Linked DNA regions of Homo sapiens: all the other regions are linked to region 3. Evidence: fine-mapped expression QTL. A gene starts in region 3. Each other region holds a variant in brackets. All regions are shown on one strand. Distances are from middle to middle.

The links.
Region 1: its variant is fine-mapped to the expression of ABHD15 in whole blood (INTERVAL, PIP 0.95).
Region 2: its variant is fine-mapped to the expression of ABHD15 in monocytes (Fairfax 2014, PIP 0.95). The same link has a PIP of 0.9 or more in Th17 cells.
Region 4: its variant is fine-mapped to the expression of ABHD15 in lung (TOPMed, PIP above 0.99).

Annotation. Positions count from the first base shown.
Region 1 is chr17:29,674,948-29,683,049 of GRCh38, reverse strand. SSH2 (slingshot protein phosphatase 2) reads left to right here. Exons shown (of 16, transcript NM_001282129.2): 7 at 5,309-5,377; 8 at 6,165-6,230. Among named protein-coding and RNA genes, the nearest start is that of SSH2-AS1, 39 kb to the right of the region's middle. The variant G/A (reference allele first, on the strand shown) is at 3,353.
Region 2 is chr17:29,586,497-29,594,597 of GRCh38, reverse strand. GIT1 (GIT ArfGAP 1) reads left to right here and starts at 4,950. Exons shown (of 20, transcript NM_014030.4): 1 at 4,950-5,271. The coding sequence starts at 5,220. ANKRD13B (ankyrin repeat domain 13B) reads right to left here and starts at 1,466. Exons shown (of 15, transcript NM_152345.5): 1 at 863-1,466. The coding sequence starts at 976. RefSeq lists enhancers at 278-347, 3,970-4,869, 5,769-6,668 and silencers at 2,672-2,861, 4,622-5,101, 5,362-5,551. The variant T/C (reference allele first, on the strand shown) is at 3,845.
Region 3 is chr17:29,563,194-29,571,295 of GRCh38, reverse strand. It overlaps ABHD15 (abhydrolase domain containing 15), which reads left to right and starts at 4,259. Exons shown (of 2, transcript NM_198147.3): 1 at 4,259-5,210. The coding sequence starts at 4,330. TP53I13 (tumor protein p53 inducible protein 13) reads right to left here and starts at 2,595. Exons shown (of 7, transcript NM_138349.4): 1 at 2,466-2,595; 2 at 2,210-2,278; 3 at 1,937-1,978. The coding sequence starts at 2,537. RefSeq lists enhancers at 1,555-2,055, 3,139-3,188, 5,209-5,318 and silencers at 2,359-2,718, 3,719-3,978, 4,069-4,688.
Region 4 is chr17:29,476,742-29,484,843 of GRCh38, reverse strand. It overlaps TAOK1 (TAO kinase 1), which reads right to left. Exons shown (of 20, transcript NM_020791.4): 5 at 7,138-7,183; 6 at 6,497-6,593; 7 at 4,363-4,476; 8 at 2,556-2,647. Among named protein-coding and RNA genes, the nearest start is that of ABHD15, 86 kb to the left of the region's middle. The variant T/C (reference allele first, on the strand shown) is at 4,446.

The sequences.
Region 1 (8,102 bases), 110 kb before region 3:
TTTGTCACTAGAAAGTTTCCCAAACCAATGTTTACCTTATTCCTATATAGAAGTCAACCTGAAAATGACTTGGGGGTTCACAGGAATTCCCAAAGCCAAAGTTATTAGCTTGTATACCACTTAACAGCATTTAATTGTAGGCTCTGAATTTACACAGGCTTGTAAACCAGATTTAGGAAGATTTCTCCTGCATGGTTTTAACTTCTGATTAAGCAACAGAGCTTTCAGTAAGCATTTTCCTATAACAGCACCTACCTTGTTTACATTCATTAGGATTTTAGGACCTCTAATTTAGGTTTTTAATCTTTCTAGATCTGTGTTGTCCAGTATAGTAGCCACTAACCATATGTGCCCCTTCCTTCCTTCTTGCCTGCCTGCCTTCCTTCCTTCTTTCATCTTCCTTCCTTTTCTCTTCTCTTCTTTTCTTTTTTCCTTTTTGTGAAGAACACAGTCTCTCTGTGTTGCCCAGGCTGGTCTCAACTCCTGAGCTCCTGCCTCTGCCTTCCTGAGTGCTGGGATTATAGGCATGAGCCACTGCATACAGCATGCACGTGTCTTTTTAAATAGATTAAAATTAAATGAAATTTCAATTCCTCAGTTCTAACTAGTCACATTTCAAGTATTCAGTAACCGTATGTGCTAGTGGCTATCGTATTAGACAGTACATGTATAGAACATTTTCCATTCTTGCAGAAAGTTCAGTTGGACAGCACTGTTCTAGCTCATATTTCCTTTGTTCAGTTCTCCCTGACCCCCTCCCTTGAAAACCCTATAAAACAGGAACAGGAACCTCATGAAGCTTCAATTGAATCTTCCCCTAGAGACAGAAGACAATAACTGCAGATTCTCCTGACCCAGAATATGAGCAAGCACATGTCTAATCATTTCTCTTTCACTTTGTCCTAAACTTTACCAGAAAGAATGCATATTAATATAGGTATCCAGTAGTTTATACTCAGTAAATTACATCTATCTTTTGCCAATGGCCCTGTCTGAATCATATCTGACCAGTGTCACTAGCCAAAGGAAATTATAGTTTATAGAAGACAAACTTAAAACATGAAAAGCTAGAAACTAGTTTTCATTCTGTTTGCTAAACTTGCTATTATGAAATTCCCATACATCCTCTGCTTTAATGAGTTCCTTGGACAGTAAGAAGTCTCAGATGCTCAGGTAATCTAAAATCATTTCTGTCTCAGTTGTTGTTGAAGGAATTTGAATTTGTATCATTTCATATCTGAGAATGTAAATGTTAATGCTTCAAAATAGTATTAAGCCAAAGTGGAACCCAGATTATGACAAGTACAAATAGTTCTTAATAATACGTTGCAGCCAATTCATTTAGCCCATTTACAAGTTCTTTGAGTATTATGTTATATTTTAATAATTTTTTAAATATGCAGCATAATCTTGGTTTCTAAAGTGTAACATATTTTAAGTTATAAAATAATAGAGCTTCATGGTTTTTTGGGGTTTTTTTTTTCCATTTCTTTTTGTACCCCTAACACCTTGAAATGTCTGGTACATAGTAGGCACTAAATAAATTTTTATTGAATGAATTGAATATTTACTAAAATAAGTAGTTATACTTAAATGGAGAAAAATCTTGAGAGACTGAGGTAACCTGGATAAAAATACCAAGCGTGCCTTATTCAGTCCTTTCCTTCCTGTTGCGTGAAAAAGCTACTTTTTTTTTTTTTTTTTTTTTTTTTTTTTTTGAGACAGTCTCACTCTGTGGCCAGGCTGGAGTACAGTGGTGCAATCTCAGCTCACTGCAACCTCCGTCTCCTGGGTTCAAGCGATTCTCCTGCCTCAGCCTCCCAAGCAGCTGGGACTACAGGCGCACACCACCATGCCCAGCTAATTTTTGTATTTTTAGTAGACGGGGTTTCACCATGTTGACCAGGATGGTCTCTATCTCGACCTCGTGATCCGCCCGCCTCTGCTTCCCAAAGTGCTGGGATTACAGGCACCACGCCCTGCTGAAAAAGCTACTTCTTAATGTAAAAAAGCACTCTGGCCTGAATACAAGCCAAAAATGTAATGTCGATTCCTGTATATCAATGTCACTTGTCCAAAGGTTAACCAAAATCTGGTCACAAGCTTATAGATCACACTCTTTTGCAGCTTCTGTATCTTTTTATATAGTTAATTTCTAGATTTGTCATTGGGCTACCAACCCACCATATTTATACTCAAAATTATACTTGTTGCTAAGAACCTGGCTAAGCACTCACTAAATACAAAACAAAAAGCTACTGTAAAACTATCCCCACTTCATCTTGGGAAGCCGTTTTCAAAACAAATTTTTTTGTGCGCTCATCTCATCTACTCAACAAAACTTGTGGTAGAGCTGTCTTGCTCCTGGACTCTGGCATGGTAGCTGTGTTTCTGTTGTTCAGGTCCAGGTTCTAATGTGGATAAGCTGTTTCAGTCTTGATTTGAATCTCCTGAGCTCTGGAATCACTCTTTTTTTTTTTTTTTTTTTTTTTTTTTTTGAGAGGGAGTCTTGCTGTGTCTCCCAGGCTGGAGTGCAATGGCGCAAATCTCAGCTCACTGCAACTTCCACCTCCCAGGTTCAAGTGATTCTCCTGCCTCAGCCTCCCGAGTAGCTGGGATTACAGGTGTCTGTCTGCCCCTGCACCCAGCTAATTTTTGTATTTTTAGTGTAGAGATGGAGTTTCGCCATGTTGGCCAGGCTGGTCTTGAACTCCTGACCTCGGCCTCCCAAAGTGCTGGGATTACAGGCATGAGTCACCGTGCCTGGCCTGGAATCACTCTTAAGGTGTTAAGCAGCACAGGCCAGCAAGTGTAGTGGAAAGCCCAACTAAGGGCTAGCCTCCTTTAACCCTGCAGTGACTAACAGTTAAAGTTTGGTATTCATTATGTTGTTTTTAAAGCATAATGGTTTCCCCTTCCCCCAATCACTTTCAGATATATTAGAGCACCCATTACAGATTCATATTCAACATTTGTTTTACAGGACAGTATATTCACATATATTGTTTTATTTTAAGTATGTTATGTCTTTATACCTATATCTATGAGAATAGGTTTTATTATTCACAGTTCAAGATGAAGAAATTAAGGCTGAGAGAGGTTAAATAATTTGTTTAAAAAAAAGTTGTAATACTGAAGGAAATCAATCCCAGATCTTTTGGCATAGTAGATGTTCAATAAATGGTAATGACTATTACATTTTAGGCACTTAGACACTATTTTACTCTTTTATTTGTTATTTAATCTTCAAAACAGTACAATGAAGAAGATATTTTTATCCCAGTTTTACAAATGAAGAAATTAAGGCACAAGACAGTTAAGTAATTTGCCTAAGATTATACAGTTGCTGGGC[G/A]CGGTGGCTCACGCCTGTAATCCCAGCACTTTGGGAGGCCAAGGCGGGTGGATCACCTGAGGTTGGGAGTTCAAGACCAGCCTGACCAATATGGAGAAACCCCATCTCTACTAAAAATACAAAATTAGCTGGGCGTGGTAGTGCATGCCTGTAATCCCAGCTACTCAGGAGGCTGAGACAGGAGAATCGCTTGAACCAGGAGGTGGAGGTTGCAGTGAGCCGATATCACACCATTGCACTCCAGCCTGGGCAACAAGAGTGAAACTCCATCTTAAAAATAAAAAAAAAAATAAAAATAAATTTTAAAAAAAGATTATACAGTTAGTGCAAGAAACCAGGTTCCAGAGCCCATAATCATACTGTGAACCCAGGTTCCAGAGCTCTTAACCATACTGTGCTTTTCCACAGTATGGTTATGCCAGATTCTTTCTAGTACACCATGCTTCCGCTCTAGATAGATTGGCATGGAGCATCATGGAAGCCTTTCGGAGACTAGCCAGAGTGGGAAAGCAGTTACAGCAGCGTTAAGGAGAGATAGTGGCAGTAGCCTAGGGTAGGTTACTGTTTCCCAGAGAAGAGATGTGATAGAGCATACAATCAGGGGTCCATGGCTTTCTGTACGAACCTCTTCCATTAACTTAAAGCCCTTCCTGGGCTAATGTGAGATTGAAATAGCATTTTAGGCCGGGTGCAGTGGCTCATGCCTGTAATCCCAACACTTTGGGAGGCTGAGACGGGTGGATCACTCTGAGGCCAGGAGTTTGAGACCAGCCTAGTCAACATGGCAAAAACTCATCTCTGCTAAAAATACAAAAATTAGCCGGGCATGGTGGCACATGCATATAATCCCAGCTACTCGGGAGGCTGAGGCAGGAAAATCACTTGAATCCAGGAGGTGGAGGTTGCAGTGAGCCAAGATTATGCCACTGTCCTCCAGCCTGGGCAACAGAGGGAGACTCTGTCTCAAAAAAAAAAAAAAAAAAAGAAATAGTATTTTTAAATACCATACTAGGGCTACCCTTTTCTTGGTTGTTGACATTTCTATTAACTGTGTTTCAGCAGTGCTAGTTCAGTGCACAGTCACAAAGCAGTGTTTCATTGATTTAAGTTTTGTTATGTCTATTTTGCCTATCTTGATCACAAACTATTAACAATTACTTCTTTACATTTTTTAATTCCCTTTGCCTTTTAGACTATTGAGTGTGTTCTGGTGTTAAGTAAATCTATGTAAACCTCAGAATTAGAGGCAAATAACACATCCCAAGCTCTCCAGCAACCAGCAATAGTTATTGGCATTAAAAATAATCCTTGGGACTGGGCACCATGGCTCATGCCCGTAATCCCAGCACTTCGGGAGGCTGAGGTGGGTGGATCAGGACTTCGAGACTAGCCTGGCCAACATGGTGAAACCCCATCTCTACTAAAAGTACAGAAAAATTAGCCAGGTGTGGTGGCGCTCGCCTGTAATCCCAGCTACTGGGGAGGCTAAGGCAGGGGAATTGCTTGAACCTGGGAGGCAGAGGTTTCAGTGAGCTGAGACTGCACCACTGCACTCCAGCCTGGGCAACAGAGTAAGACTCCATCTCAAAAAAAAAAAAAAAAAATCCTTGGAGTCGAGGTGGACACTGTACTATGTGCTAAGACCTGCCAAATGCAAGTCAGCAGCAATCATCTGCATTTTTTAGATAGTGGCCATTTGCAAGATGACAATGTAGGAAGCTGAGTCAGTAAGTTTTCTTCATTAAATATTTAAGGAACTGACTGACTATCTCTTTAAAACAGCTCCTGAGGACATACATAAGATTAATAATAATATGATAGAAATTTCTTCATTGTAACACTTATGCCAGAATTTAGAATTTAAGGGTTTATCCTTGGTGTTGAAAGAGTTAGTAAACAGAAGACTGCTTCCCAGAGTAATGGGGAGTAACTATTGGACTACTTCTTGTCTTGCAGTAGCACTTGTACCATGGGCTTAGTTTTGCCTCTCTGGAGCGACACGCTAATTCATTTGGATGGTGATGGGTAAGAGATTTCCTTTTTTATTCTGTTACAGAAAGCCAAGGGGTGGGGCTCCATCTTACTGCACATTCATTCAGCTAAAAGGGAGGCCCAGTGTGCCAACTGAACTTTCATGTCAACAGCTGAATGAGTCCTTTTAAACTCCTGTTTTGTAAAGTGGAGTAAAAATACAACTTGCCAGGGTCTCTCACTTCTGTTCTTCTAGGCCGACTGTGGTAGGAATCAAGACAAAGAAGAACTAGTTTGTTGGCTCTTTAATCTGAGTATGTGGGACTGTTGCAATGCTCTCCCAAAGGATGATATGTTCTGTTTCAAATAACCTCTTGCTGCCTCTGCCAGCTGTCAGCCTACAGTATAACCCCTTTCCTGTGCCAGTTCCTTCCAGTGACCCCACCCCCACCCTACCTCCTAATGTTTTTAGAATGTGTCCCCAAGAGACCAAGATGTTTGCTCCAGTTTATAAAACCAGGGTCAGGTTTGCTAAGAACCCACAAGACTTCCAAATAGAAATATACAGAACAGTTTGTCCATAGCTACAGCTGGGAAACTGTATTGAATTCTCTAACTCCAATATAGGAATCCATTCATTTTGCCTGGTAGATGAAGTCAGACAATTTGTCAAAGCTTTTTGGTCAAGTCTTACACTCTAGTTAAAACTTCTACGTGAAATGCCTGATGATTCCCTCTACGGAGCCAGTTGTTTTTAGCCTGGGATACATCCATGAAAACTCACAATTCAAATAACCTACCCTAATTTGTGGATTTTTGTCTTGTTCTCATTTGTCCTTAGTGGGTTCAGTGTATCGACGGATAACAGAGTTCACATATTCAAACCTGTATCTGTGCAGGCAATGTGGTAAGATGACTTTTACTATCTCTACAAAAGTGTTTTAATGTTATTGGAGGAATATTTTGTAAGAAATGTTTGAAATGGTACAGTTTGCTATGAAAATGCTAAATGATCTGTTTGTATAACCATCGTAGTTAAAGATGACCTAGAAATGCAATATTCAAATTGTTGCAATTGGAAGGCCTTGAGTATTGGTGAACAAGTGAAATTCAGAGGAATTCAGAGGTGTTATTCTTAGGCTCTGGCAGAGACTTAACGGTTTAGATAAGCCAGTTGATACCGAGTTTTATTAGGGACATATTGACTAAGTTAGTTAGTGGACTAAGAGCCAAATCTAGAACATCACATTGCTATGCATTAGCTATTTCTTTTTTTTCTTTTTTTTTTTTTGAGACGAAGCCTCACTCTGTTGCCCAGGCTGGAGTGCAGTGGCGCGATCTCGGCTCACTGCAACCTCCGCCTCCCGGGTTCAGGCGATTCTCCTGCGTCAGCCTCCTGAGTAGCTGGGACTACAGGCATGTGCCACCACGCCTGGCTAATTTTTTTGTATTTTTTAGTAGAGACAGGGTTTCACCATATTGGCTGGGCTGGTCTTGAACTCCTGACCCCGCCTTGGCCTCCCGAAGTGCTGGGATTACAGGCGTAGCCACTGCGCCTGGCCTGCATTAGCTATTTCCTAAGGTAACCAGGGATAGCATTCGTTACTTTATGGATAAATAAATTTCCATTTAAACTGCTGGTGGCTATTTGCATAATGCAAATAAAGCCTAGAGAAAACATTATACTTGCTAATAACCATCAGCTGGCATATGGACATTTCAGGGCTATTTACTACATGCCAGATGCTTTGCATGGATTATATTTAATCATCATACCAAGCCCCCAAAATAATATTATTAGCCCCTTATTATGGGTGAGAAAACATGCTTTGGATGGGTTACATAACTGCCCTGAGAGTATTTCTTACATTTAGACAGGATAGATCTCTCTCTCTCTCTCATATCTCTCTCTCTCTCTCCTTTAAAGAGACAGGGTCTCCCTCTGTCGCCCAGGCTGGAGTGCAGTGGTGCAATCATAGCTTATGGCAGCCTCCAACTCCTGGGCTCGAGTGTTCTTCCTACCTCAGCCTCCTAAGCAGCTATGACTACAGGCATGTGCCACTACACCTGGCTAATTTTTTTTTTAATTTTTTTTGTGGAGACGGGGGTCTCTCTGTGTTGCCCAGGCTGGTCTTGAACTCCTGGCCTCAAGCCGTCCTCCTGCCTTGGCCTCCCAAAGTGCTGAGATTGCAGGTGTGAGCCACTGCACCTGGCCTCTTATTCTCTTATTTTAGATTATCTAGAAAATTATCTAATACAACCAGAGAATGATGTGACTAAGATTCAGAATCCATTCCCCAGTCAGGGATTTGAATTTCAGTTTCCTATTCAGCTGCCTGTTAGGTAGTAGAAGTCCCCATGGGGAGCGGAATGGATAGAATGCAAGCAAAACAAGAAATAAAAGAGCCTGAAAAAGACCCCAGGGAGATAATCTACCCCTGAAAACAGAATTGATAGGATGGAGGTGGGTGGAATCCAAAGACTCACTGAAAAATTAAGTCTTATCATTTCCTGCAGTGATTGAGATAGGACAGTTTCAGGTCATGTGTTTAGACCAGATTTTTAGAGTTAGGGCATATTTTGCAGGTAAGTTTCTCATGGAAAACAGGAAATTTATGACCCCCTTTGACTAAGGCTCAGTTAAAGACAATTGACTTATCTATTCCTAAGTAACAAGTAAAACCAAACAGCAGTAACAACGATAAATGACAGCATTTTCAGGTATATTTTGGGGAAGAGTACAGAGCAGTCTTAATTCAAGTAATAACCTTAAATCAAG
Region 2 (8,101 bases), 23 kb before region 3:
CAGAAGTGGCAATCTGTGACCTGTGCCTGCCTTTGTTCTGAAGCATGGCCAGAAGACATCCTGAAGCATGGCCAGAAGACATCCCCCCTTCCCCTGTTTTCTGGAGACCACTGCCCAGCCCAAAGCTGGTGACCCACGTGGCCTTACTGACCAGCAGAAACCAGGGAGCCCACCTGGTGCGCAGAACCTCAAGTCCTTCCAGCAGCCAGGGCCCCTCAGCTTCCTCTGCGCCTAGAAACCAGGCCCCAGCACCAGAGGGCAGGAGAGCGCTTTTCAGCACCTGGACAAGGCCCTTGGGGCCTCCCAAGAGGGTCTTTCTCCACTCCCTGTTCCTGAGCTGGGGCTGGGCTCTGAGAGATCCAAGGATCTGCCCAGTTTGAGAGCTAAAAGAGAAAGCGCTCACCGTTGGGGAGAGGGCGCTGGGTGGGGCTGGGGTGCCTGGGAGTGTGACACAGCCTCTTCCCCATTCTTGACCTATGGCCCCCTCCCCACGCAAGCCTTTCCCACCTCCGCACCCTCACTCGGGAGGTGTCGCCGCTCAACTGGCTGGGGCGGACTCTCCCACCACATGGAACACCGACACAGCCCGCAGCCCCTCCCTGCAGCCCTCACTGCCCCGGCGGAGGAGGGGCACAGAGGCCTCTACTCTCATCTAGGTGAGTCCGAAACACGTGTGGTCCCGCCCGTCCCGGCCGGAGGGGATCACCCTTTCCCGGTCAACAAGCACAAAAGCCGCGGCCGCAAACAAAGACGCGCCGCAAACTCGCCAGGGAGGCGGGACAGCCCGCGCCGCACCCCCTCCCCAGGCCGGACGGGCGTGCCCGGCCGCGGGGTCCCCGCGGCGCCCCGAAGGCGCTCCTACCTGGCCCGCGCGGACCTCCTTCTCCAGCTCGCGGTGGCGGTTGTGCCACACGAGGTAGTGCAGCGGATACTTGCCCTCGGGCCCCTTCCTGGCGGAGGCGTTGGCGGGGATCATCGCCCGCTCCTCATGCCGGGGCCGCGGCGCCCGGCCGGGGAGGAGGGACGGCGCCGGAGCCGGGGCCCGGGGCCGCGGGGCGGGGGGCCGGCGCTGCCTGCTCGCGGGGCTGCGGCTCGGGCATGTGCGAGCGGCGGCGGGCGGGGGCGGCGCGCCCGGCGCGGTGCGGGCGGCGCGGGCGACGGGCGTCCTCGCGAGGCGGCGGCGGCGGGCGGCGCGGAGAGGCCCCCACCCGCCCTGGGAGGGAGCGGGCACTCGGCGGCGCTGCGCGGACTCGCGCTCGCCTCCCACACCCCCGCACACAAAGACGCCGCTCGGCGGAGGGAGCAGGCGCCCGCAGCGGGCGCGGGGGCGCACGGGACGCGGGCCCCGGGGACGCCGCCGCAGGGACGCGCGCCCGCAGCCCCCGGGTCCCCACAGCTGCATAGCCCGGCCCTCAGCCCGAGCGGCCGGCGCGGGATACGGGGATGTGGGGATGATGGGGAGAGAGGAAGGGGACCAGGCGCCCCGGGTAGAGCTTGTCAGCTCAGCCCCGCGGCATCATGGGGTTTGTAGTCCGCCTCGTGAAACTGGGGGTGGCAGGTGGCCGAAGAGGGTCTGCACTGTCCCCGGATCTCGTGGGAGAGTGGGCGGGGAGTCAGGCCTGGCCCAGACGCGGGCGGGGCCCTGACGCCAGGTGGGCTGGGACGCACCTCCCCCGCTGGCATTTTGCCTTTTGCTGGGGAAGTGGGGGGGCACGGGCCTAGGTCGAGCGTTTGGGAGACGGGGTGGAGGTGTGGTCTTCAGAATTGAGCTTGGGTCCCAGGGGCCATGAAGAAGGATCCGGATTCCCAGAAGAGAGCGTCTGATTGGGAACTCCTGAGAAAGGTGTGGGGCATCAGTACCAAGGGTCATTGGAGCAGCCAGGGGTCTGGCCCCTGGAACATTTCTGAGGAGTCTTCCCTGCCCTGTTAGAAAATTAAACTCCATCTTCCACACATGTCATTGGAAACAGAATGTCCAGTAACGCGGGAAAGATGGTCCCTTTCCCCCCGCACACTGTCCCCAGCAAGAACCAGAGTGAGGTTGGACAGAAAAAGCAGCAGGTGGCAGCTCCGTTCCTCCACCCAGCTGGCCCTTCAGGAAGGGAAGTGACTGATTCCAGAGACTGTCTCCTTCCTGAATGACCCCAGGGTGAAGAGGTACTTCCAGAATGGTCCCTGCAGAGGGTGTGGTAAAAGTTGAATTGGCCTCTCAAGCGCCAATTGCAAGGCCTGGAAGGACCAAGAGGCTTGGACCAGTCCCTGGAGGGAGGGGACTGTGATGTCAGAGAGACCAGAGTTCGAATAGCTCCAACTGCCTGACCTTAAAAGAGCAAACTGCTTAATTTTTCCGACTTTCTCGGTCCACTCCCCTTCAAAATGAGAATCTAGATACTACCTCCTGGGGTGAGCTAAGGATAATGACTGCCCTGGAAACAGCGCCTCCCTCCCCCAACCAGGCGGGCCGAGACAGGTGGCGGGACCAGGCACGGTGCCTTCTTGAGCCCACCTCAGAACAAGGCAGGAATAAGGGATTCCACACCGGCCCTACTTAAAACAACAATCCAAGAAGTGTTTGTGTGGGAGGTGCCAGCAAAAGCTTGCAAACTCTCTCAGGTTTCTTTGTGTGGTCTTCCCTCCTTCCTCCTCCACACCCTGTGGTGCCAGGCCCCAGCGGGAAGAGATGAGGGAGGAGCGGGCTGCCTCGCCCCTTTCTCCCGCCTGGGAGGAGCCAGCTGGCGTCTCCGGGGGCCCGGGACCGCTGCCCGCCTGCACCACCAGGGGTCAGCAGAGTGTCGTGGCTGCAGCCAGTGCAGGGGAGGGGGCTGGCGCGGTTGAGGGGCATCTAGGAGTGGCCGGGAGCATGCCTGTGCATTTCCTTATTAAATTGTTTTTCGAACCTTGTGTGTGATTCCACTGTAGCAGTCCTGCTTCCTGGGGTGGTGACATCTCCACGGGGGAATCCAGAAACCCTTTTATCTCCAGTCCCAGGCCCAGAAGTTTGGCTGTGACGGGGCTGGGGGAAACAAAGTTTGGACGATGTGTCCGCGCCAGGGCCACTCCCAGGTAGTCTCTGAGCCAACCAGGAGATGGGGAGTGGGGTGGAGGGGTAAGCAGAGTGAATCATCCTTCTTCCCCAGCAAAGCCCAGGAGTCCGAGGACAGGGGGAGTTCAGGATGGATTGTGGGGAGTTGTCGATTGTGGGGAACTGTCCCCTGGGCGGCCGTGTTCTTTTTTTGCCAGGCGGCGGTAGACACTGAACCCAGGTCGCTTGCGCTTCGGCCCGCGCTCTCAGCTGCCACGTGCTCGAGACGCGCCCACACAGCGGAGAAACAAAGACAGCCAAGCGGCAGGGCTGCCAGCAGCCTCCTCGACATTTAATAAATGAAATTCCATAGCTGGGGGTCGATCGGGGGTGAACGGGCGGCCACCGCTCGTGGACTGAGCGCCTGGCACGGGCTGCCTGGCCACTCCTCCCGTCTCACTCCCCCCGCCCCTTACCCCCTTCCCGCTGAGGCCACCAAGCCCATGGACTCTGGTGAGAGAGCAGCTCGGGGCGGCAGGTGGTGCTCCCCCCTACACACCAGCTAGGTATCGTTGCTTGCAAAAGCCCCACCAGCTGAGCGGCTGGCTGTCGAGGGAGGGGAGGCCTGCAAGATTTTTTTAAGGTGCAATTATAAATAAAGCCCATGGATCGCGATTTCAAACAAACTTGTCAATCTGGGCCGCAGCAAAAGGCGATGGAGGCAGCTTTGCATGTATTTCGGGTGGTGTGACTCATGAGCATTACTTGTCTCCCCTAGGGAAGGAGCCTGCCCACCCACAAATCACTGCCGCTCTGGCACCG[T/C]TGGGATAATCGACCAACTTGAGCACCCCTGCCAAAGGACTGCCCCCATCTTAACAAGCAGGAGTCTCTGACTCTTGGAGAACCCCTCCTCAATTGTCACCACTGACCTGGCCCCCAGGTCTGGCCCTGGGGACCTCTACCCTCTCCCCACAAGCAGAGTGCCCGGGCCTTTTGCTGCTGCAGGGATTGGGGGTTGGGTACACGCGCGGCACACGCGTATGGGGGCGCATGCTCAGTGCGGGGGCTGCGCTCATGTGCGGCCTCTACCTAGGCTCCCTGCCCCCCAGCCCACCCACGTCCCTCACCTGCCTTGCCTTTGCCTGCCTCGTCGTGTGAAGTCCAGGAAGAAAGGCCGTCACCTGAAACGGCCCCTCTATGTTATATGCACCCTTTCTGGACACACACACCTCTGGTGGCCCAGAAACACCGTGGGTGTGTGTAAGGCGGATGACAAGTGGATGTGAGTGCACACAGGCACAGTGGTCACTCCTCGGGAGGTCTTTAAAAACCGCCCAGATTCTCTCCTCTCTGGATGGAAGGATGCATGGAGAGATAGATATATTTTTAGTCCGGAGGCAGGGGAATACACTGCCTGACCTTTCTGGCACCTGGGCGTCCATATTGTTAGCAGTGGGCGTATTCAGCAAGAGTGTGACACATACACACACACCCCTGGACACACAGATGTGGACACCTACGGGACAGGGACGCACACCTCACCCCAACCAGAGATAGACGGGTACCCCAAGGCACAGCCCCTTTGACCTGGAGCGGGACTTGGGCCTCCAAGTCCTTCTTCCCTAATCCCCACCCTCGCCGTCCGTGGGCCCAGCGTCCCCCGGTCCACCCCACGCGGAAAGTGAAGGGGAGGGGGCTGTGAGGGTGACTCACATTGCCTCCGGGCCAGGCGAGCGCTGCAGCGGAGGCCAGGGCCGCAGGCCACGCTGCCCGCCGGGGCCGGGCATCTGCCGCGGCCCCTTTAAGCGCCCCCGCCCCCTCCTGCCCGCGCCCGGGCTTCCTTTCTCTAGGGGGCGCGGCCGGCAGCGCGCGGCGGGGCGGGGGTGCGGCCCCTCCCCCTGTGGGCAGGGCCTGCGCCGCTTCCTGCAGAAGCGGCCGGGAGCCGCGCAGGGGGCGGAGAGAGGAGCCGCGAGCGGCGGCGGGGCGGCGCGGGGCGGAGGGCGCCCGAGGGCGAGCGGGCAGGCGGGCACGGCGGGTTCCGGGCCAGCCCCGGGGCGGACGGTTGGCCGGGCGCGCGGAGCCTCGCCGGGGCCTCGCCGGAGCCGGGCCGGGCAGCAGGGGCCGCCGCCGCCGCCCGGGCCCGCCGCCCGCGCCCCCCACGCTGGCCCAGAGGGCTGCGGCCGCGTCGCCGCTGAGGATGTCCCGAAAGGGGCCGCGAGCGGAGGTGTGTGCGGACTGCAGCGCCCCGGGTAAGCGCGGCGGGGCCGGGGGCGGGACCGCACAGCCAGGCCGCCGCCGGGCGGGCGCCGGGGCCTGGCAAGAGCGCTGTGCGGGGCCGGAGGGCTGGGCGGGGCGGGGGGCTGCGGCCTCCAGGCTGGGCCCCCGCCTCGGCCACTGCGGAGCTGCGCCCTTGGCGGGAGGGCCGGCCTGGGGTGCCCATGCTCCCTGGAGGCCGTGGACTAGCGAGGAAGGACGTTCCCGGCGCCGCCTCCCGCTCCTCGGTCTGAGGGAGGCGGGCAGCTGGCTGCTCCTCCACCTCCATCTCTGTATCCGACGGAAGCGCCAGCCTGGGGTGGCAGGAGGGCCGTGGCGGAGGCCGTCAGGGCTTGGGAGGTGGGGGCGAGTGTGGTTTTATGTCATCTCAGTGCCACCCCCGCGTCTTGCACCTGCTGCTCGCGTGGTCGGTACGCCTGCCGGGGTGGTGGAGGGCAAGGAGCAGAGGGCCGGGCAGATGCGCCAGTGGGGCCTGAATACCGTCTCCTCAGGAGCAGATGAGCGGTGGCTACTCCCAGGACTCCCTGCCTCGGGTTCCTAAGGCTAGCGCTCCTTGCCGGGCCTGGCGTTCAGGGCCAGTCTAGACCCGGGTGTCTTCTCGGGAGGCATCCCCAGGCCTGCTGGTGGTGACTGGGAACAGCTCGGCTGGACCCTGCTGTTCCTGTTCACCGGTAAGGCCTGCTTGGGAAAGTGAGCTTGGCATCAAGCTATCCTGGGTGCGGGCCCCTCCCTGTCCCCTAGCCCAGTCTGGCCAGAAATGGGTGGGAGGCCGTGCCGAGATTCCCCGTATCCTGCTGGCTTCCTGGCCTGTCTCCTGGCTGTATTTACATGGTGGTTCCCTTCCTTTTCCTAACAGAGTTAGGACTGGGCTGGAGTGAAACCCCCCAGGCCTGCTGAGGAAGTCAGGGGTAATGATCCAAGAGGCTGCTCCCTTCTGATGAGGGAGGACAGCCAGTGACGGGGCTCTGCAGCTGGCCTGGGAAGGAAGCTCTAGCCCACATCCATTCTTTCTTTAGCAAAGGAGCTATCTCCCTGGTAGGCCCCTGGGCAGGCTGCGGAGGTCCGTGAACTCTAGCGGGGCTGTGGGCATGATTAAGAGTGAGAGTATGGGGTGCTGGTTTGTGGGCCCATAACTTTCAGCCACCCCTTGAGCAGGCCCAGGACCCCACCGGTTGAGCCTCACAGATGCTCTGGTGGTTCTGGGGGTGCCAAGCTAGAGTATTTGGGAACTATGACTTAGCAGGGCTTGGGCACAAAATACTCCATAGGTGGTTATGACCAAGGCCTCCTAGGGGCTTATCATGGTTTAGAGGGCCCTGGGGTTGAGGGTCCATACCCCTAAGAAACTGTGACTCCGTTCCCCGAGCTGCAGGCAGGTCTGGGGATGGCAGGGCTGAGGATGCACCTTGCCTTATAAATGTCTCCCCACTGTTCCACAACTCCGTGGGGTAAGCATGGCATGGAATGTGGAGGAGAGTCTTAGCAGGCGCCCAATCGGGGGAGTCTGGGGCTTAGTGTTGCCTTTGTTCCCAGCTTACTCTGTAATCCCAACAAGACTTTCCTCACTGTGGGGTCCTCAGCTTCCTCAATTCAGAGGCAAAGAAGTTGGAGTAGAAATGGTTTTTGGGGGGCTGCCATCTCCGAATCTGTGGTCTGATTCTGGGGTGGAGGGGTGAAGGGCAGCACCAGCAAGGCAGTTGTCCTTTGTATGTTGCGTTGAATGTCCGACCACAGCCTCTGGATGCCCAGTGGGCTCAGGGAGGAATGGTGGGCATCAGATGTGTTGGATTGCCCAGCTCCTCCTCCCAGGTCCTCATCTGTCAGAGGAATTTGTGCCCCAGATGCCTCCTTTCCCCTGATTCACAATAGAGGTCAGGAAGGTGGTGAGAAGGTGAGGATGGTGGGGTGGGGAGGATGTGGACAGTCTTACTCATCAGCCCACCTAGCACCCAGCGAGGTGTCCAGCACATGGCAGGCACTCCCTGAGTGTTTGGCTGCTTGTTAGGACCCTGGCTGGCTGCTTGGGACTATCCCACACCTGGACCCTAGGATGCTGGCCCTGGCATGCAGCGGCATGTTTGGTCTGGGTCCTGTGGCATCTCAGGCAGAGAGGCATGAGGGTACCCAGCAGTCCGGAGTCCAGATCCAGTGCCAGCCCCATGGTGTATCGCTCCACCCCAGGGTCACAGGCTTCTTTTATTATGATAGGAGCCCTGCAGTCCTAACCACAGGAGTGGGGCCAGGGACTTTTTGTGCTTGGTTAATTTGGGGGGTCATGGAGGTCAGAGGTGAGATGCAGCCTGTCCCCAGAGAGCCCCATCCTCCCTCTGCTCCCGGGCATGGGCACACAGGACAAGTGTGAGTGTGTTGCTAGGCAGCTGGACATGACATGGCTGCTCTGGCAGCTTGTGCCACCTCGTCAGGCACCGTATGTGTTCCTGCCTGCCTGGGGAGTCCAAGAGAGGAAGGGGGCAGGGAGCCCTGGAGAATGTGCATCTTCCCCTTTCCTTAGGCTTGGCCCACCTCGCCACACGATCTCAGTCAAGGGCCTCTCCTCACCCCATGGGCTTCTATCTCAGCCTTTTCCACTTTGGCAACCCTGGGGGTGAGAGTGAAGGCCTCAAGATGCCTGTCCTGTAGGTATCTCTGGTGAGCAAGGCCGGGGACATGTTACGGGACAAGCTACAGGCTGATTTGTCTCTTCATAGTGTAGATTGCAGAGTGGGACAAATGTTGGGCTCCTCTTCCTCCCTTATGGAGGTAGAATTTGTGTGTGTCAATGCCTGCACCTGAGTGTTCATCCTG
Region 3 (8,102 bases):
ACGATGGCTCTACAGGTCCACAATCCAAGCCATAAGCAACCCCCAAATGAAGACCATCGATCCAATCTATACAGTCTCCCAAGAGCATCCAAATACAGGGCAGGCAGGCAGCAGGTGCACAATCTCAGGATGGAAATACTCCATCAATCATTCATTATTCTTTGATTGAGTTGACTTGGTGCTCAGTGCTGTGCTAGATGCTGTGGGAGATGCCAAAGAACTCCTGGACTCTGCTTGCAAGGAGTGTGTGAGAAACTCAGGGAAACAACTAATGCAAATAAAACAGCAAACTAATAAAACTTAGTGATTAGTTGTTAAATTATCAGAGATAGATTCAGAGGAGGAGGGGAGGAATAAAGGCTGATGCCATCGGGCAGTGTCTCAGGGGGAGCTGATGCCAGCTGGGACTGGGAAGATGGCTGGGGGAGTATGGCAGGAGGGCAGGGAGCTGCACTCTCCGAGTCAGGATAGGCCAGGTGTGGAGGAGAATAAACAGGAGCAAAGGGGCTGTGGTAAGGGCGAGGCTGGCACTCATTTGTGTGGCAAACAGCCCGACACAACTGGAGAGGAACCAAGGATGTGGAGAGGTCAGACGAAGCTTACTTAAGTAAGGCCTGAAAAGCCAGGCCGGAGAATATGGCCACGATAAGGTGGGAAATAAGGAGCCATTGACAGTTTGTGAACAGAGGAATGACTTCATGAAAGGGCTGTTTGAGGAAAGGAATCTGATAGGTGGCGTGAGGCAACAACTCTTGGCCTGGAGCTATTACAGAGAATTTTTTTTTTTTTTTGAGACAGTCTCGCTCTGTCGCCAGGCTGGAGTGCAGTGGCATGGTCTCGGCTCACTGCAACCTCTGCCTCCTGGGCTCAAGCAATTCTCCTGCCTCAGCCTCCCAAGTAGCTGGGATTACAGGGGTGTGCCACCACGCCCAGCTAATTTTTGTATTTTTAGTAGAGACAGGGTTTCACCATGTTGGCCAAGCTGGTCTTGAACTCCTGACCTCAGGTGTTCCACCCGCCTCAGCCTCCTAAAGTACTGGGATTACAGGTGTGAGCCACCATGCCTGGCCAATTTAAGTTAGGTATTTCAGGCCAGGCATGGTGGCTCACACCTGTAATCCCAGCACTTGGGAGGCTGAGGCAGGCAGATCACTTGAGGTCAGGAGCTCAAGACCAGCGTGGGCAACATGGTGAAACCTCGTCTCTACTAAAAATACAAAATTAGCTAAGCTAGGTGGCACACGCCTGTAATCCCAGCTGCTCGGGAGGCTGTGGCATAAGAATTGCTTGAACCTGGAGGCAGAGGTTGCAGTGAGTGCCACTGCACTCCAGCCTGGGCAACAGAGTGAGATTCCATTTCAAATAATAATAATAATAAGTATTTCAAAGGAAAATTCAGAGGAGCTGGCGATGAAGATGGAGATGCTACCACGCAAGCTGAGCCCGCAGTGTGGAGCCTGGCAACTGGAGGCACACTCCTTGCACGATGCAGCTCTGTACTGTACACGGTGCTGGCACATACCCTCCCTCGCTGCTCACAGGTAGAGACAGAATTAATACCCTCTCCTACAGAAAGCTGGGGCCCACAAAGTCAGGAGACTTCCCGCTGTCTCCTCAGGGAGCTGGAGCCTGGGTTTTTTCCAGCTACTCTCAGAGAGAGTTCCACTCACAGCCACTTGTCCACAGAGCCAGCTACCCAACAGCATCCTGACACAGCATTGCAGATGACAGGCCTATGGCTCACTGTCTTTGAGCCATCTGTCCTGGGGCTGATCTGTCCTGGGCTTGGAGGTGGGGCAGAGAACTAGAACCCTGCCTCTGCCTGAGGGAAGTGGTAAGGAATGGGGCCGATCAGCAGAACAGGCAGCGAAGCCTGCTAGGAGCGCCTGTCTCCAGGCGTGGACACCAAGGGTGGTGGGCCCCTGCTTGTACTCACCTGCCCTGGGCTCACTCGTGTGTAGGTCACTCTTGGTGACACCTATACATGGGGAAAGAACAGAGCTTAGGGCAGTTGGGGGACTCCGTGTGTGTGTGGTGGGGAGGGGACGGCAGGCCCCAAGCGCCAGGCTGGGATGGAGAAGTTGGCTACTGAGGACTGAGGAACCGGCAGAGGTCCTCAGATGGTGACTGTGGAGGGTGCGGCGAGAACAGAGCGGGACTGGGCTAGCCTTTCACATCCCTCTCTCCCTGGGCCCTCCAGGGCTCCTACCTGCGGAGGCAGAGGCCACAGGCTCTCGGGACAATGGGCTCCCGCCTCCTCCGCCGGTCCAGCCATCACCTGTGGGTCCAAAGCGAAGAGTTGGGGCGCTGGACGCGGCGAGGCCCTGCCCTCTCTCTCCCCAGGCCCAGCCCGCCAGCGGAAGAACTCCGCGTCCCCCTCGGCGCGCCACTCCTTCCAGGACGAACTTTTGGCAAAGCGCTTTGAGCTCGCGGGCCGAGGCCTTCCCAGGAGCGGGTCACCTTACCTCGCTGGGACCCAGGAGCCTCGCGAGGGCTGCCAGGAGAAGCAGTTGGGGCGAAGGCGGAGGAGGCGCCATTCCAAGCGGCCCCGGGCCCGGCCCGCCGCCCAGCCGCTCCGCCAGCGAGGGAGCGCGCGCGCCCCGCCCCTCCAGCCCCAGCGCCCCCGCGCCGCCCGCGCCGCCCGCGCGTCCGTTGGCCCTGGGCTCGCGCGCGCCCCTCCCCAGACAGTGGGCCCCCGGTATCGCCCCGCCCCAATGCCCGCCCACAGCAGCGGAGTGTGCGCGCACGCGTCTTAAACCCGAAGCCGGAAAAGTTAAGTGTAGGAACCGGGTCAGCGCGCAAGGCTCAGTAGGGCAGGCGGGGGGCCCCTTTCCTCGTCCGGGGATTCGTCTCAGCAGGTCCCTGCAGTCTGTAGAGCAGCTGCACAGCTGCAGCGCCTGGATGAGATCGTGGAGCGGAGTGTAAGGCCGGAAATGGAATCCCTGTGGACCGGGTGGCCCAGGCTGGGGAGACGGGTACACTCCCCTGGCAAACCCGCTTCAGATTTGTCGGTGTGACCTGCAATGAGAAGAGGGGCAGAATCATGAAGTCAGGAAGAGCTGCTGAAGGGAGAGGGTCCCACCTCTGGAGCTTCGCCGTCGGCCCACCCCGCTCCCGCCCTCGCAAATAGGGTCCAACGCGGAGGAGCCTCGGGAGGTGTCTCCGCTCCCCAAACTCTCCAAACCCAGAAGCCCCGGGAGGCCGGAGCTAGCCGAGAGGCTGCTGTCTTCCCCACCTCCGCCGTCGCCCAGCGGTGGCAGGCGCGCGTCTAGAAAGAGATTGGTCGCCGCGAGATGGGGACGCCACAGGCCTCACCCCCAGGAGGTGCGCTGGCCGGCCCGCCCCGCAGCGGGGCGCTGGTTCTGGTTCCCTCTCCAGGATTTGGGGGGGAAACGTGGGTAGAGAGCGAGGGTCGAGATGCCTATCCCAAAGCTTGGAAACAGCGAGAACGTGTTATTTCCGTGGTCTCCCATGCACCCCGGTTTACGAGGCGTTCCTTGTAGGTCGGACGGGCATCCCTGTCGCAGGGCGCCTGAGTGTGTCCTTTTCTCCGACTGACTCTCGGAGGCTTGGGGCTGCTGTTTCTGGGGAAGCCACTCCCGGGCTGAGGATTTCCTTGATGTGGAGCCCCGAGCTCGCGGGGACGGGGGCGAGGAGTCCACGGGACCCGCACTGATGCAGGCGGGGAAGCAGCAGCCTCCCGCCAGCGGCTCAAGACGCCGCGCTCGACCTCTCTAGCCCAGTGCCGGACCCCGCCCAGCCAAGTTATTGCGGGGTTGCGGGGCCGGGCGGGGGAGAGCAGGGCCGCCCGAGGGCAGAGCGCGCGCGCGGCCGCCGCCCCACGGGGTCCCGGGAGCCGGCGCCCGGAGCTGCGACTTACTCACCTCTCCCTTCTGCTTCTTTTCATCGGCCTCTGAGGGCGCAGCGCCCAGGGTCTGGCGGAAGACCCTGATGACAGTCGGGTCCCCAAGCCTCGGCCTCCAGTCTCCCCACGTCTCCATGGCCAACACCGCTCTCCCCGGCTCGTGCCCTCCCCACTCCCTTCCGGCTGCCGGCGCGCCCTCCCTCCCTGGTGGCCCCGGCTCCTCTCACCCTCTGCTCCCACTTGTTGCAATTGCTGTACAAAGGGCCGGGGCGGGGGTGGGGGGCGGGCGAGGGCAGCCGGGCCCGAACTGGCTGCCTCTGCCCGGCCACGGCCAATCCAGAGCGCGCCCGCGCGGGAGGGCCCTGGGCAGCCGCCGCCGGCGGGCGGAGCCGCGGGCAAAGCGCGGAGCTCGCCGAGTAGACGGCCCCGCCGCCCGCTGCCCGCCGGGGCTCTCCAGCTTCGCCATGCCGCCGTGGGGCGCCGCCCTCGCGCTCATCTTGGCCGTGCTCGCCCTTCTCGGCCTGCTCGGCCCGCGGCTCCGGGGACCCTGGGGGCGCGCCGTCGGAGAGAGGACCCTGCCGGGGGCCCAAGACCGAGACGACGGGGAGGAGGCGGACGGCGGAGGCCCGGCGGACCAGTTCAGCGACGGGCGCGAGCCACTGCCGGGAGGGTGCAGCCTTGTTTGCAAGCCGTCGGCCCTGGCCCAGTGCCTGCTGCGCGCCCTGCGGCGCTCAGAGGCGCTGGAGGCCGGCCCGCGCTCCTGGTTCTCCGGGCCCCACCTGCAGACCCTCTGCCACTTCGTCCTGCCCGTAGCGCCTGGGCCTGAGCTGGCCCGGGAGTACCTGCAGTTGGCGGACGATGGGCTAGTGGCCCTGGACTGGGTGGTAGGACCTTGTGTTCGGGGCCGCCGGATCACCAGCGCCGGGGGCCTTCCTGCGGTGCTTCTGGTGATCCCCAATGCGTGGGGTCGCCTCACCCGCAACGTGCTCGGCCTTTGCTTGCTCGCCCTGGAGCGCGGCTACTACCCGGTCATCTTCCATCGCCGCGGCCACCACGGTTGCCCACTGGTCAGCCCCCGGCTGCAGCCTTTCGGGGACCCGTCCGACCTCAAGGAGGCGGTCACATACATCCGCTTCCGACACCCGGCGGCGCCGCTGTTCGCGGTGAGCGAAGGCTCGGGCTCGGCGCTGCTCCTGTCCTACCTGGGCGAGTGCGGCTCCTCCAGCTACGTGACAGGCGCCGCCTGCATCTCGCCCGTGCTGCGCTGCCGAGAGTGGTTCGAGGCCGGCCTGCCCTGGCCCTACGAGCGGGGCTTTCTGCTCCACCAGAAGATCGCCCTCAGCAGGTGGGTAACGGAGGCCGCAGACCAGCATGGAAAGAATAGAGGGCCTGAGCTGGCTAAGAATCAGAAACAGCTATGCATAGCATTGGAACAGGCGTGGGCCAGTTTGGGCAAAGTTCTCTGAACACATCTTCCAAAGCCTTCCAAACCCTGTAATCTAGACAGAACCGGGGAAGCGGGTTTAAAGGTCATCGATGGACTCAGCTAGTATCGCTGTGCTAGAGCAGGGACTCCTAACCCGGCCCCTTGCCTCATCTCGGCACCCCCTGCTGTATCCTAGCAATCTGAGCACCTGGCCCACGACAGCAGAGATACCTGACATTTACCACTTAGCCCACAGCTTAACAGCTCAGCAAAGAGCACTCTGGAAGCAATTGCAAACGATTATCTGCCCAGAATGTTTACTCACAGTCTCTGAGCCTGGAGGTGACAGGAATCAGAAATATGGTGGCATTTGAGGCCAGGTGCAGTGGCTCCCGCCTGTAATCCCAGCACTTTGGGAGGCCAAGGCAGGAGGATCACTTGAGCCCAAGAGTTTGAGACTAACTTGGGCAACATAGGAAAACCTGTCTCTACAAAAATTTCTTTTTTTAATTAGCCGGGTGTGGTGGCATGCATCTGTGGTCCCAGCTACTCAGGAGGTTGAGATGGGAGGATCACCGAAGCCCAGAAGTTCGAGGCTGCAGAGAGCCCTGGTCAGGCCACTGCACTCTAGCCTGGGTGACAGAGCAACACCCTGTCTCAAAAAAAAATGTTATATATATATATACACACACACGCATATATGTAGGCATTTATTAAAATTATTATTTTTTAAAAGTATTTTTTTTTTTAGACAGTCTCACTTTGTCACCCAGGCTGAAGTGTAGTGACATGATCTCGGCTCACTGTAACCTCCACCTCCTGGGTGCAAGCTATTCTCCTGCCTTAGCCTCTGAAGTGGCTGGGGACTACAGGCGTGCACCACCACACCCAGCTAATTTTTAATATTTTTTTTGGTAGAGACGGGGTTTCTCCATGTTTGCCAGGCTGGTCTGGAACCCCTAATGTCAAGTGATCCGCCTGCCCCAGCTTTCAAAGTGCTAGGATTACAGGTGTGAGCCACCGTGCCCAGCTGTTTGTTTGTTTTTTGAGGCAAGATCTTACTCTGTCGCCCAGGCTGGAGTGCAGTGGTGGAATCACCACTCATTGCAGCCTTGAGTTCCTGGGCTCAGGTGACATTCCTAGCCTGCACTCTGGCTTTCTTAGGAGATGGCAGAATGAGGTCGAAGTCATTATGGCAACAGTGTGGTGTAGCAGAAAGACCTGGGATGTGGGGGCCAGACCCCCACCTCAGCCTCCCGAGTAGCTGAGACTACAGGCACATGCCACCATGCCCGGTTAATTTTTGTATTTTTCATAAAGATGGGATTGTGCCATGTTGTCCAGGCTGGTCTTGAATGTCTAGACTCAGGGAATCCACCCGCCTTGGCCTCCCAAAGTGCTGGGATTATAGATGTGAGCCACTATGCCTGGTCAGAGATTAACATCTAATTTCAACTGTCTGAGGCTGGATTGAGCTATTCAAAAGACGGAGCTGCTCATCCTGGCCTCCTTGTCAGGATGCCAAGCCCTCTCCAGGGGTCTAGAAACAGCAAAGATGTTCCCTGTTACCCAAAGCAGTTGCTCTGAGGCCCCCATTTAGGAATCCACCCAGTAAATTAATGACCAACTCAATTGCTTCCTCTGCCAGGCAGCACACTCTCTAGGAATATCTGCCCCAGGTATACCTGATCAACATCACACTCATGTGACATTACCAGGACAGGATGTTAGTTTAAAAAGCAAAAATAAAAACAATGAATGCAACCTAAAGTCAAATGTGAATTATTAGCAGAGGTGTCACCTGCTGGTTTGGATACTCTGAGCAGCAAGTTCTTCTAGGAGCAGTTTAGTAGGTTACAGTTCATAGCAAGTTCTCCACAGAGGGCCAGAAGTTGAGGTTAGGAGAACTGTCAGCAGCTGTGAAGTCAAATGCTGCCCCTAGGGCACATAGACAGGTGCAGTGATGCTGTGAATGACAGGCCTAGTGGGCACCGTCACACAGGAAGGAGGGAGGAACCCATTGTTGTGCTGAGAAATGCCCACCCATGTGGCTGGATCTTCCCACTTCCCTAGAGAAGCCAGACACCTGCATTTTATGTGAAATCTTCTAATTTTATTATTTTATTTATTTATTTATTTATTTTTTGAGATGGAGTCTCGCTCTGTCAGCAGGCTGGAACGCAGTGGCACGATCTCGGCTCACTGCAACCTCTGCCTCCTGGGTTCAAGTGATTCTCCTGCCTCAGCCTCCCAAGTAGCTGGGACTACAGGTGTCCGCCACCACGCCCAGCTTATTTTTGTATTTTTAGTAGAGATGGGGTTTCACCGTGTTGGCCAGGATGGTCTCAATCTCTTGACCTCGTGATCCACCTGCCTCAGCCTCCCAAAGTTCTGGGATTACAGGCATGAGCCACCGCGCCTGGCCACTTTTATTATTTTATATTATTTTATTTTATTTTTTGAAATGGTCTCTCTGTGTCACCCAGGCTGGAATGCAATGGTGCAATCATAGCTCACTGCAGCCTTGACCTCCCAGGCTCAAGCAGTCCTCCCACCTCAGCCTCCTGAATAGCTGGGACTGAGCCACCATGCCAAGCTAATTTTTTTTTTTTTTTTTTTTAGAGATGGGTTTTCGCCCTGTTGCCCAGGCTGTTCTCAAACTCCTGGACTTAAGTGATCCACCCACCTCGTTGGCCTCCCAGAGTGTTTGGATTACAGGCGTGAGCCACCACAACCAGCCTTATCTGGTTTTAAATGATGGCCATGAAATTAAACGTTTTCGAAGCCCTAAATGGCCAAAGAAAGCCTCTG
Region 4 (8,102 bases), 86 kb after region 3:
CACCTGAAGTGAGGAGTTGGAGACCAGCCTGGCCAACATGGTGAAAACCTATCTCTACTAAAAATAAAAAAATTAGCTGGGCGTGGTGGCAGGCACCCATAGTCCCAGCTACTTGGGAGGCTAAGGCAGGAGAATCCCTTGAACCCAGGAGGCGGAGGTTGCAGTGAGCCAAGATTGTGCCACTACACTCCAGCCTGGACAACAGAGCGAGACTCTGTCTCCCTCCCACCCCGCAAAAAAAGAAAGAAAAGAAAAAAAACGAAAATCATACCTCTAGACCTGTGTTATCTAAAAAGGTAGCTAACTAGCACATGTGACTATTTAAATGCAAATGTATTTAAATAAAATTTTAGAAAATTCACTCCTTTAGCTGAAAAGCCATAGCTACAGAACACTTCCTTCACTGCAGAAAGTTTTCCTGGCCTGTGCTACTTTAGACCTTTCACCTAGAACCATAATCAGGCTTAAAATATAGTTCCTGACTTAGCACTTCAAAATATTCAAAACATTTGTAAGTAAAATGTTTAAAGTTATTATGAAAGATTACAAAAGTGAAGATACCAAATGAATGCCTAAAATTCTAAGAAATTATTTCAAATATTTCTCCCATGCAAAATTATTTAAAGGCAGTCACATCTAAAGTTCCTTTAAGTATAAAAACTTCTATTGTGAAGGAACTCTTTTATGAAGTAGAATAAAAAGAAGCTAGAAAGGAGAAGCCATTTCACGGAAACTACAAAGTTTAGGTAGATTTTGTTCTAAGCACAACAATGAGCCAACAAATACCTTCTAATCAAATAAATCTTAAAATATATCAATGAAATCTAGCAGGTCCATTAATGCAATTTCACTATCACTGAGGGGCACATGTATGCATCGGCCAGCATTAAGAATGTAAAAGGACCCCATGGGCAAAGAGTACATTAACCAGCTTCTGTACATGTATACCCAGGCTTCTTAAGAAATTAAATTAGGACCTATGGGTAGGAAAAAGAATCATAGGTAAAAGAATAGAGATTAGAGTTTAGGACACCTAAAGGTACTTTCAAATGGAAGAAACAGTTTTGCAAACTTCAAATTAAGACAAAGAAATCCCAAGTATGACATGGTAATCTCCAAATCTCTGTTTGTTGATGTTGTTAAACTATAAAACAAACAGCAGCAGGATGTGGAGCTTGAAGGGAGTAGTTAACAGAGGAATTCCAACAAAAGTGAAAATACTTAAAGATTACATTTTAGGGAAAAAAAACTGGACTGCAAGGTAGTCTGGTTGTAATAGAAATCGTAACTTTAATCTACTGTGTAATAATAAGCAAGATTTTACCTTCATTTTACCTCATTTTCCCTATACTTATTTTAGAAAACTACTGACAAACTCGAGTAGATAATGATTAATCAAAATTACCAACAGATTTTACTTTTAATGTATTATTTTCCATCCTTAGTCACTCCTTTTAGAATGGTTTAGATGAGCGCAGTGGCTCATGCTTGAAATCCCCCCACTGCGGGAGGCTGAGGCAGGAGGATAGCTTGAGCCCAGGAGTTCAAGACCAGCCTGGGCATCATGGCGAAACCCTGTCTCTGCTAAAAATACAAAAATTAGCCTGGTGTGCTGGTGTGTGCCTGCAGTCCCAGCTATGCAGGAGGCTGAGGTGGGAGGATTGCTTGATCCCAGGAAGCAGAGGTTAGAGTGAGCTGAGATTGCACCACTGTACTCCAGCCTGGGTGACAGAGCAAGACCATGTCTCAAAAATAAATAAATAAGTAAAATTTAATGCAATGCTCTTATAAGAAGATAAAAAGGAAAAGACTATTGGGCTGGTAGACCTCCATTGGGAAATCCAGAGCAAGAAGACGGCCAGCATCTTCAATTACAGTGACAGTTTATTGGCTCACAGAAGTTATGATGGTCCACTCTTTTTAGCACAGTTCTATTTATGAACAACTTAACAAAATGTGTGCTTAAAATCAAACTGCTACAGGAAATTCAGTCCAATCTCTCTCTCTCTCTCATTGCAAGACCCTGCTACAGTGATGCATATACCTATGGATCATGGCCCCTGTTGAATGAAGTCGGCCTTACCGTCTTAAAAAAAAAAAATATGTATATATATATATATCAAACTGTTACAAAATGGTATGTAGGTATGACAGTCTGACATCTAATTTCATCCCTAATTAAAAAAAAAGTAGTAACTACCCCAGCTAGTTATGAATGGCTTACAGATCTTCTATAGCTGGTAAATCTGGTAATCATAAACATATTCTAGGTGTTTAACAAATACTCATTAATGTTAGACATAGATTCCTCAAACTTAATTAAAACCACAGTGGAAAATTATTTTAGATATAATGGAACAGAGCAAATATAATATAGGTAACCCTAATATAAATAAAACTTACCAAATAACCAAAGTGAAAACCTTAATAAATGTATTGCCCCCCTTATAAAGTGACATTTAAGATAAAAATCTATAATTTTTATAGATTGGTACAGAAATTGAGGTAAAACATTGATCAAAACTTAATCCATAGTAATGAAGAACAATGCTTACCTAGTTCAATACATGTTATTCCAAGAGACCACACATCTACTTTGCCATCATATTGTCCTTCATCCATGGCTAAAATTACTTCTGGGGCCATCCTAGAACAAAACGTTAATTTAAATTAAAGATTTTTTTTAAAAAGTATTCTATCCTTTGAGAATGTAACAGTCATCTACATGGAGATCACTGGTTTGAATTCTAGCCAATATATCTGGACATAAGAATTTTTATAACGGGAACTAAGTGCATTACAGGTTGTGAGGTAAATATTTAGCAATGCATATATAGTGTGAGATTTATGTATTTATTTATTTATTGTATTTATTTATTTTTTTGAGACAGAGTCTCGCTCTGTCACCCAGGCTGGAGTGCAGTGGCGCAATCTCGGCTCACTGCAAGCTCTGCCTCCCGGGTTCACGCCATTCTCCTGCCTCAGCCTCCCGAGTAGCTGGGACTACAGGCGCCCGCCACCATGCCTGGCTAATTTTTTGTATTTTTTAGTAGAGATGGAGTTTCACCGTGTTAGCCAGGATGGTCTCGATCTCCTGACCTGGTGATCCGCCCGCCTTGGCCTCCCAAAGTGCTGGGATTACAGGCGTGATCCACCGCACCTGGCCCATAGTGTGAGATTTATTTTCACTATCCATCATTATCATGTAACAGCCACCCCAAAAGAAAGAGGCTCCCAAGGCAGAATTATATTTTGCATCTGCTCAAGTTTGCAGATTATAATATTTCATATACTTTAGGCCAGTGGTTCTCAAATATTTTGGTCTCAGGATCCCATTACAAAAGTCTATTTTTTGGCCAGGCACAGTGGTTCACGCCTGTAATCCCAGCACTTTGGGAGGCTGAGGTGGACAGATCACGAGGTCAGAAGTTCCAGAAGCCTGAGCAACATGGTGAAACCCCATCTCTACTAAAAATACAAAAATTAGCCGGGTGTGGTGGCTGCTGTCTGTAATCCCAGCTACTCAGGAGGCTGAGGCAGGAGAATCGCTTGAACCTAAGAGGCGGAGGTTGCAGTGAGCCAAGATCACACCACTGCACTCCAACCTGGGCGAGAGAGCAAGACTATGTCTCAAAAAAAAAAAAAAAGTCTAATTTTTGCTTAAAAGATTGAATTTTACTATTGGCAACAAGTATTGTCCGTTGTTTTCCTTGAAGTTATAAGCTCATGTCATTTATTAAAGAAAATTATCTGCCACAATAACCAAGACTGAATAATCATAGTTTGTTTGTGTCTTTCTTTCAAATAAAAATGGTGCTCCATGATAAAAGTGGCTAGGGCAGCTTGCAACTCAATCACACAATTATCAATCTTATGGGCATCTTATTTGTAAATGAAGCACTAATCACTAATTCATGTCTTCAATTAGTGTCCTACATTCTTTTTTTAAAATTTTAATCTTTTTTTTTTTTTGAGAGACAGGGTCTCACTCTGTCGCCCAGGCTGGAGTACAGTGGCACAATCTCGGCTCACTCCAACCTCTGCCTCCTGGGTTCAAGTGATTCTCCTACCTCAGCCTCTCAAGTAGCTGGGACTACAGGCATGCACCACCATGCCTGGCTAATTTTTGTATTTTTTGGTAGAGATGGGGTCTCACCATGTTGGCCAGGCTGGTCTCAAACTCCTGACCTCAAGTGATCTGTCTGCCTCGGCCTCCCAAAGTTCTGGGATTACAGGTGTGAGCCATTGCACCTGGCCGAGTTTAACATTCCTGACAGTACTTTACCTTACACTTCATTTGTATTTCATGTTAAACATAGACAGACACTTAAAACAGCTGCTGACTGCTTTAACTATTCTTACCAATACGGCGTTCCCACAAAGGAATTGGCAGGTGATGCCATGGAAGCAGAGCCAAAGTCAGCAAGTTTCACCTGGCCTGGTTC[T/C]GTCAGAAGGATATTTCCTGCTTTGATATCTCTAGGTTTAGGGAATACAGAAAATTACTTAACTTTCCCTCAATAGATTATGTTTAAAACGATAAAAATAAAACAAGAATTCATAGGATAGAGAAAGAGAAATCAAAATAATTAAGTGCTGGGGTAATCTCACAATTGGGATAAGGAGAATTAATATTCAAATTAGAAAACAAAAAACTACAGAATTCAAATAAACATATAGTAATAATTTTCTAAAAGAGAAGACAAATAGCAGTAAAAAAAAATTAGTTCATTGGAGCATAGTTTATATTTTAGTTTCTGTTTATTGGTAGAAACAATGGTTTTTAAAATATATTGCAATTAGCAAACAATCTCTTCATCATACGTAAGATTTCTGAGTATCCATACTTAACTTAAAAACAAAAAAGAAAATATAAAAGAACCTTATTCTCCAAACTTTTTAAAAGACTTATTCAAAATAAATAAATACATAAAGATGTATTCGTATCATTTCCAAACGTCAGCATAGTTTTCCTAAATATAAAATAAAAACTGAAATATATGGATAATGTAGTATCAATGATCCCAAATTTACTTTTCTGAAATAGCAAACATACTGTCTATATAAACTAAGAAAACATGTATTTATATAATAAGACTGTCCATCTAATTAGCATTATAATATATACTTAATCATTCAAAAATTAAAATAGAAATTAAAGTGCTGAATTTCCAAGCCCTTGTTAATTCTCACTATAATATTTTAGAGCATAACACGAAGTGAATCTATTTTTCCTCCATTTGATTTTTTTTAAATGGAGAGGTATCTTAAATTTGAGAAAACCTTAGGTTGAAATTCCAACTATGGCACTCACTTATTTACTAGCTTGTGGGTATCTCTCAGATCTTATCCTCATGTTAAAAAATGATAACCTATTAACTCACAATGACTCTATTATATAGTTTAAAACTCACTTATTTACTAGCTTGTGGGTATCTCTCAGATCTTATCCTCATGTTAAAAAATGATAACCTATTAACTCACAATGACTCTATTATATAGTTTAAAATGTACTGCCTGGTTCATATATGTAATAAGAAAATGCTAACTTTCTTCTAAAACAGCTAGAACCAATACCAGTGCCAAAAATACATTATAAAATGTTTTAACTTCAAAGTTACTATCCATTATCAAGGATTATCAAGGACCACAGCTCAAAAGCATAAGGAGTCTTAAGCAGCTTCTGTTTTTTTTTTTTTTTGAGACAGAGTTTCACTCTGTCACCCAGGCTGTACAGTGGTACAGTGTACAGTGTGTACAGTGGCACAATCTCAGCTCACTGCAAACTCCGCCTCCCGGGCTCAAGTGATTCTCTTCTCTCAGCCTCACGAGTAGCTGGGATTATAGATGCCTACAACAAAGCCCAGCTAATTTTCATATTTTCAGTGGAGACGAGGTTTTACCATATTGGTTGGCCAGGCTGGTCTCGAACTCCTGACCTCAAGTGATCCACCTGCCTAGGCCTCTCAAAGTGCTGGGATTACAGGTGTGAGCCACCTCGCCTGGCCTTAAGCAGCTTTTATTCGTCCATGTCATAGAATCAATGGAATAAATATGTCATTATCAGTTACCAAGAAGACAAAAGATCTAGATTTAGTTCTAGCTCTATCTACTCAGCTTTGCAACCTTTAGGAAATTAGTCACAAATTGAGACATCAGTGATTTTACCGGTAAAATGAGAAAGAAAAACTGTATGATTCTCTAATGCCCATTCCAGTTTGCAAATTAAATGATTCTATAGCTAAATTTCTACCACAAATCTAGAAAGTATACATATTTTTACAAGGTCCAGCAGCACATATAGGCAAAGATAAAAATTATCCTAGTGAGATAAAGTATACAACTATGTTCATTTTAGGACATGAAAAATCTAAAAAAATATGAGCTTATATTATTTTATTTGGCTTTAACCAATAAAAACTTTAGAGTTAATAAATTCTAAAGTTGGTATATGCAACAAGCCATTTACTTATCAATATATAATTTCCAAAGCACTTACCTATGAATCATAGTATGAGAATGTAAGTAGGCTAATCCCTGAAGAGCACCATGTGTAATTGCTGCTATTTCCACTTCTTGTAATGGCTTTTTGTGAACTTAAAATTTATTTCAAAATAATTAATACACAGAACATTTTTGTTAAAAAAATACATATCTAATACATGGGGCAATTTTTAAAAACTGATACTTAGCAAGAAGAGATTTATTTTCCAAGATGATAAAGATTATTAAACTTTATAACTTGTATGCAGTTGTGTCAGTTGTTAAAGTACAGTTCATAGCCAATTCTTCTCTTAGCTAACGATATTAAATAATTATTTGGTGATGTAAAAACAATAGTAACAGAGTTCTCTCTTTATTCTCACTTATCTTTGGTTTGAACAAGAGGAGCAGAATGACAGAGAATTCAGAAAAATACTTGTAAAGTCACAATGAGAAAACATGACTATTTTAAGCTACTGTATAACATATAATATTTAATAAGGACAGCATATACCATGCTGAGAATTTGAACAAGACTAAGAGTTCTGCTCTTTCTGGAAAGTTTTACATTATTTGGTATTAATATCATTTAAATAATGTCTAAATTATCATTTTATTCTGTGAATACTTTTTAAAAAATAATCAAAGGGAACTTACCTTCTAGTAAATCCGAAGCAGATCCTAAACAATATTCCATTACAAGCTACATGGAAAAGTTATAAAAGCATTAAAATATATTATTATAAAGATTTAATATAAATTTAAGATAAAATAAGTTCACACAGTAGATCAAGAACATAGTTTGAAGTAAAATTCTAGTCACCATTTACCTTAAAAAAATAGTTATATAGATATTACTCAGAATAATATATTTTTAAAATTTTTTAATAAAAAATAGTTATGTATTCAGTGATTTGTTAAATGCATAAAGTCAAGCCAATGATACATTAATCTTTTAATAATGCCAACATATAATCACTTCTATAAGCTGTGTATTTCATATATAATTACTAATTAAAATTATAAAGAAATACACTATTTCTTAAAAATGTACTATTCCATTACTACAAACCTATAGTAACAATATTGATCATCGTTAGAAGACAGAAAACTGTGTTCTCTAGAATTATATGTATAGTCAGCCCTTCACATCTGTGGGTTCTAGATTTGTAGATTCAACCAACTATATATCAAAAATAATTGAAAAAATAAAAAAATTGGCTGGGCACGGTGGCTCATGCCTATAATCCCAGCACTTTGGGAGGCCGAGGCAGGCAGATCACCAGGTTAGGAGATTGAGACCATCCTGGCACACACGGTGAAACCCCATTTATACTAAAAATATAAAAAATTAGCTGGGTGTGGTGGTGGGTGCCTGCAGTCCCAGCTACTCGGGAAGCTTAGGCAGGAGAATGGCATGAACCTGGGAGGCGGAGCTTGCAGTGAGCCGTGATTGCGCCACTGAACTCCAGCCTGGGCGACAGAGTGAGACTCTGTCTCAAAATAAATAAATAAATAAAATTTTAAAAAATGACAATATAACAATAAAAATAAAACAAAAAGCCAATATAACGTAACAACTATTTACATGGCATTCACATTGTGGTATTATAACTAATCTA